Regions from separate parts of the Homo sapiens genome. Here region 1 is linked to region 2. Evidence: fine-mapped expression QTL. A gene starts in region 2. The other region holds a variant in brackets. All regions are shown on one strand. Distances are between the middles of the regions. Region 1 has its middle 54 kb from the start of PLEKHG3. Region 2 holds the start of ZBTB1 (zinc finger and BTB domain containing 1).

What was found. PIP is the estimated chance that this variant, and not a neighbour inherited with it, causes the effect.
Region 1: its variant is the best candidate, but not a certain one, in a credible set for the expression of ZBTB1 in adrenal gland (GTEx, PIP 0.58).

What each region holds. Positions count from the first base shown.
Region 1 is chr14:64,649,069-64,651,966 of GRCh38, reverse strand. No RefSeq gene overlaps it. Among named protein-coding and RNA genes, the nearest start is that of PLEKHG3, 54 kb to the left of the region's middle. The variant A/G (reference allele first, on the strand shown) is at 1,508.
Region 2 is chr14:64,503,093-64,505,990 of GRCh38, reverse strand. It overlaps ZBTB1 (zinc finger and BTB domain containing 1), which reads right to left and starts at 1,221. Exons shown (of 2, transcript NM_001123329.2): 1 at 1,045-1,221. It overlaps ZBTB25 (zinc finger and BTB domain containing 25), which reads left to right and starts at 2,153. Exons shown (of 3, transcript NM_006977.5): 1 at 2,153-2,330. RefSeq lists silencers at 912-1,021, 1,132-1,391, 1,992-2,421 and enhancers at 1,111-1,781, 1,882-1,971, 2,742-2,841.

The DNA of each region.
Region 1 (2,898 bases), 150 kb before region 2:
GCTGAGGCAGGAAGATTGCTTGAACACAGGAGTTCAAGATCAGCCTGGGCAACAGAGCAAAACCCCAGATCTACAAAAAAAATTAAAAATTAACTGGGTGTGGTGGCACACACTTGTAATCCCAGCTACTCAGGAGGCTGAGGCAGGAGGATGACTGACTTGAGCCCAAGAGGTCAAGACTGCAGTGAGCAGTGAGTGTACCACTGCACTCCAGCCTGGGTGACAGAGTGAGACCCTGTCTCATACAAAACCCCAAAACTCAGATTTCACTGGCTCTTGCCTTATCTGCTGAAGCCAGACCTATACCTGCAATCTTCTGTTAATCAACCATCCCACACATCCCACCCCCATAGAAAAATAAGAAGTATGTTTGTGAATCATGAGAAGAGGGACCAGTCTCACGTGTATGTGTGTGTGTGTGTGTGTGTGTACAAGACTGTTCTCCCTGAGTGCTGTTTTGCTCTCTCACCCAGTACTTCCTATGGTTTTCAAGATACCACCATCTCCTGCCAGGAGATGGTGTTGCCACTGGAACTCGTGCCCCTGCCAAGCACCAAAGTCTCCCATGGGCCATGGCCCACTTTCCAGCTATTCACCCTGCAGAACTCACTGGACCAAAGCTGGAGCTGCTCTATGTTGAAGTGGTAGCAAGATGCTTCTCTCCTCTCCAATGCACTGCCCTTGCCCTGGAGGTCTGTAGAGATTTTACTGAGATCTCACTTTTTACTCACAGCCATCTCTCTCCTTAGGTCTCAGACATGTGTCCACAGGTTGGGCAGGGACAGAATAAAAATATTTATATGTTGTCATCAGGATTCTCACTAACCTTTAGTGACCCAGAATTTGTGACTGGGCTAGGCTCAACATGGCTACAGGCAGCTCTAGGCTCATATCATGTCAGTTTGGCCATCCTAAGGAGGGAGAGGACTTCTTGCTTTAGAAGACGTAACTCCCAATAAAGAGCTCTGATTGGCTAGGCTTGGGTCTCATGCCTGCCTCTTGGGCTGAAGTGAGGGGGAAGAAAGGGAACTGTGATTGGCAGCCTCATCAGGATCACCTTCCCCAAGGGAAGGAGGCCTGCACTAACCCTCAAATGTGGGTAGGTAGCAAGGGAGGGGGAGAAGCTGGTGGATAAAAACAACAGCTTTCAGGCTAGGAGCAGTGGCTCATGCCTGTAATTCCAACACTTCGGAGGCCAAGGTGGGAGGATTGCTTGAGGCCAGGAGTTGGAGACCAGAGGCCAGGAGTTGGAGACCAGACTGGGCAACATAATGAGACCCCTATCTCTACAAAAATAAAAATAAAAATAAAAAAATTAGCTGGGTGTGGTGGTGCAACTGTAGTCCCAGCTACTTGGGAGGCTGAGGCAGGAGGATCACCTGAGCCCAGGAGTTCAAGGCTGCAGTGAGCTATGATCATGGCACTGCACTCCAGCCTGGGCAACAGAGCAAGATCCTGTCTCAAAACACACACACACCCCAATAAAACAGCTTTTTGCTGTACCCCC[A/G]TTTCCAGACCTGCTTAGGCAGCAGTGGCCCCAGCAATCCCAGCCATTCAAGGATACAGTCGCTGCCTCTGCGGAGCTTGCTGCACCCAGACTCAGGCTCAAGTGCAGCACCTTGTTTGACTCGTCCAGTGCACACCTTCCTGAGACGAGTTCAAGGGGCGGGCTGCAATGACTTCTGCACCTACATTATCATCCTTCTTCTAAATTCCCCTGAACGTTCCCCTCAGAGTTGCCTTCCCCTGATTCGCCCCCGATCTGTTCCAATTCTCCAAAAGTTGCTCCCACAGAATGAACTAAAAAAGCATGCGCAGATGCATAATCTCCAGCCCAGTCCTCAGCTTTCTCAATCAGCTGTGGTCATTTTAGGTCGGGGCGCTCTGGAGCCCAGGTGTTATCAGTTCACGTAACGCAGGTGTGGCAGCCTCCCCCTTCCCACCTCATCCCTTGTCCCTTTGAGGTGAGCAGAGAATTGCTCTTTCCTGACCAGGGACATCTTCTCTGCTGACCGCAAACTATCAGTCCTGTGCTGCCACCACCCCCGATGACACAGGGGCTGTGACATTTCACCAGTGTCCCTTTAGGATGCCTGACGGGGTTTTCTCTGTGAACCTGCCTTGCTATCCTCCCCAGGGGGCTGAGGTGATGTCAGCCATCCTTTGTGGATGGCCAGGTGGTTCTTCGAAGATCCGGTGCCGTGGGAGGAGCAGGAGTTTCAACTACACAACGCTGTCATCGCCTCAAAAGCAACATAAGGGGAGAGAGTTGCTGCACAAGCTGCCCAGGGCTGCAATAACAAAGTACCACAAACTGGGTGGCTTACAACAGACATTTACTGTCTCACAGTTCTAGAGACAGGAAGTCCACACTCAAGGTCCCAGCGGGGCCATGCTCACTCACTCGGAAGGTGCTCGGGAGGGATCTGTTCCAAGCCTCTCTTCCTTGGCTCTAGTTCCTTGGTGTGTGGCAACATCACTCCCATCTGCACGTGGTGTTCTCCTGTGGACATGTCTGTGTGCAAATTCCCCCACCACCCTACCCTTTTTTTTTTTTGATACAAAGTTTCACTCTTGTCGCCCAGGCTGGAGTGCAATGGCACAATCTGGGCTCACTGCAACCTCTGCCTCCCGGGTTCAAGTGATTCTCCTGCCTCAGCCTCCTGAGTAGCTGGGATTACAGGTGCCCACCACCATGCCCAGCTAATTTTTGTATTTTTACTAAAGAGAGAGTTTGACCATATTGGTCAGTCTGGTCTTGAACTCCTGACCTCAAGTGATCCGCCCACCTCAGCCTCCCAAAGTGCTGGGATTATAGGTGTGAGCCACCACACCCGGCCAATTTCCCCTTCTTAGAAGGACACCAGTCATAGTCAATTAGAGTTCACACTAATGATC
Region 2 (2,898 bases):
AAATTATGAGACCTGCATCCTTCACCAAATCTGCTTCAGAGACATTGATCCTACGTTGCCTCAAAAAGCCTCGGACCACTCCTTGGGTTCGAGTGTCAAAGGGAACACTATTTCTTGTACTGATACATACCGTATGGAAATACACTAACACCAATGAAGAATCTGCGTGCACTGCCACACTGAAATTCGACTTAAGAACGTTATCACACACAAATGTCCTATCCCCAGAAAACGTCAAGGATTTTCATCAACCTCTTCCTGATTCGCCCAATTTAGAAAATGTCATGTCAACCCTTCAGATCATGTACACGCGTTGCTTAGGTAGAAAGGGAGACTGGGTGGGGTGGCTGAGCTCAGACCCTGCCTACATACTTTAGTAGTAACGACTCCCGATCTGCATCCAACACATTTACCGAACTTCTAGTAAGCGCCCACCGCTGCAAGCGAAAGCACTCCCTTCCCAAGAAACAGATCTTTTCCACTTAAAATTCCCAAACTCAGACCTTCCACTTTTTACTGAACAAAAAGCGTGTGTGCCGGCGAGAGGGGGTGGGAAACAGCGTAACAAGAATTTGCACGGATCTTACGCCTCCTCCCTCGGAGCGCGCCCAAGTCTGCAGCCTCGGGCTCCGGGACACTTCCCCTCCCACCCGCCGCCGAGCCGCAGCTGTAAGTTGAGAGAAGCGGGCTCTAGGCACGTCAATCAACCGGGTTCTCCCGCCTCCCGTCTACACCTCCCCTCCCCCCTCGAAAAAAATAAAGGCAGAGAAAGAAAGAAAAGAAGGTAACTAATTTGGGAACTAGTCTCCGTAGGGGCTTCGCCTCCGACTCAGGGAGGCCGCACGCCCGGGACCTGACGCGCCGGCAACAAGCAGGCGGCCTGGCAGCCGCCCGTCACCGGGTCCTCGCAGCGCGTCCGCCGCGCTCCGGCTCCCCGCACGGATCGGCGCCCCTCCGGCCCCGCACTCCGCCAGGCCCGCGGCCCGTCGCCCTCCGGCCTGGGCCAAAGTTGCGCAAATAGCCCCACAACTGGCAAATACTTACCGGCCGCAACAGGAACCAGAGCTGCGGAGATTTTAGGGAGTTTAAGGCAAATCAGCCGCGGGAAAGGCGGGCGAAGGCGAAGGGGCCGCGAGCTGCAGTGGCGGCGGCGCGCGGCGCTCGGCGCTCGGGCTGGGCTGCGCGGAGAGGCTCTGGCTCTGCCAGGGACTGTGCTGCAACAAAGGACTTCCGCTGCCGCACAGCCGCGCCTGCCGCACCGCACTGAGCCGGCCCCGCTTACGCGGCGACTCCGGGTCTGCCCACCAGTTCGCTGCGGCGTCCGCCAGCCTTCCCCTCCCTCTCGCCCGCCCACCCACTCTGCCGCTGGCTGCTAGGGGCACCCGCGGTCGCCTGTTTGTTGCAACAAGTTTCTGCGTCGAGCTCCGAGGAGGCTGGCGCAACCCGCACCGCGGGGGCCGTCGCGGCGGCGGCGGCTTGACCACCCCTCTTGCCCCTCTCAAGGGTAGGCTTGGGACCTCCTCCTCCTCCTGTTTGCACAGCTGGATGGAACTGGGCTCCTCCCGACTCCCCAGGGCAGGATGCGAGGCTGCTTTCCCACTCCGTCCAGATGTCAGACCCCTGCCCGTTGGGCCCAGCAGCTGGGCCGTCACTCGCGGTCCGCCTCGAGTGCTCCGGCAACCTCGCCCTGCCCCGTCGGTTCAGGGTCGCCCAGTCCCCGCGCCCCCCCGACCCCACCTTCCGTGGGCCTGCTGCCTCTGGCCCTGAGTCACTTCCCCCGCCATGCCCCACCTCGCCCAGTCCGCCTCTCCACCCAGGCTCCCGCGGCTCGGCCTCCCTGGCCCCGCGCCCTCATCCCTTCCCCAGCGAACACGCGGGCGCATCCTTCCCCACCCCCACCTTCACCCCAGAACTGAGGGGGTGCCTGTGCTTTTGCACACCCTGGGGAAAGTCCCCGGGTCACGCGGTTGTTTGTGGGGAGCCTGTGACGCTCAGGCTTGTCCCTATGCTTCCGCCTACAGAGTCACAACTGCGAACTGTGGCGGCGGCACTCAGAGCGCGGGCCGACCCCCGCCCGGCCACTGAGGCGGGCGGGCGGGAGGGCGCGCACGTACGCACGCACGCACGCACGCACACCCCGGCCCTGGCGCCCCTCTTTCCCCTGCTACCAGACACGCGGTCACGTGGGGCCATCGCGGGCTGCCGGCGCGGGAAGCCGCGCGAGAGGCGGCCGAGGGGTGCGTGAGCCGGCGCCACTGCTTGCAGTGCGCGGCTTGGGAGCCCGCCCCTCCTGCACGGAGGAGTCGGCCTGCCGCCGCGGCGGCATCTGGGTAAGCGACGCGGTCCTGCCCCTGTGGGCTGCCCCGGGCTCAGTCCCTCCTGCCGCGAGCCACCCAGGGCGGCGGCCTGCAGCTGCACCAGTCGCGGGACAGATGCAAGTAGCTGGGGAGAGGGGTGTTTTTGGTCCGATTGAGATGTCAGGCAGGGCACAGGAGGAAAATACATCCGCGAGTGAGCGCTGGGCCGACAATACCCAGAACCACCCTTTGCTGCTCGTAGGAGCGGCTGCCGGGGCCTGATTCAGGGTGGCACACGGGGTGCCGCGAAGGTGCAGAGCCGTCCCGGCCGCGGGTCCGGGTGCGACCCCCAGCAGGAAACCCCAGTAGGCCTGCGGCCTCCCTCGGGTAGCGCCGACCCCTCTTACGAGCGGGCGACTTTCCAGATGCTGGGAGGACGCTGCGGCTACTGTTTCCACTCCCAGCTTGTGATTACCTCGTTTCTAGGGCAAGAAGACATCCCCCCCTTTTCTATCTTCAAATTATGTTTATCTTGTTCTAAGCATATCCGGTTTTTCTTTTTGAAGCTTGACCCATCTTATCACCGTCTTCTCTGGCACTC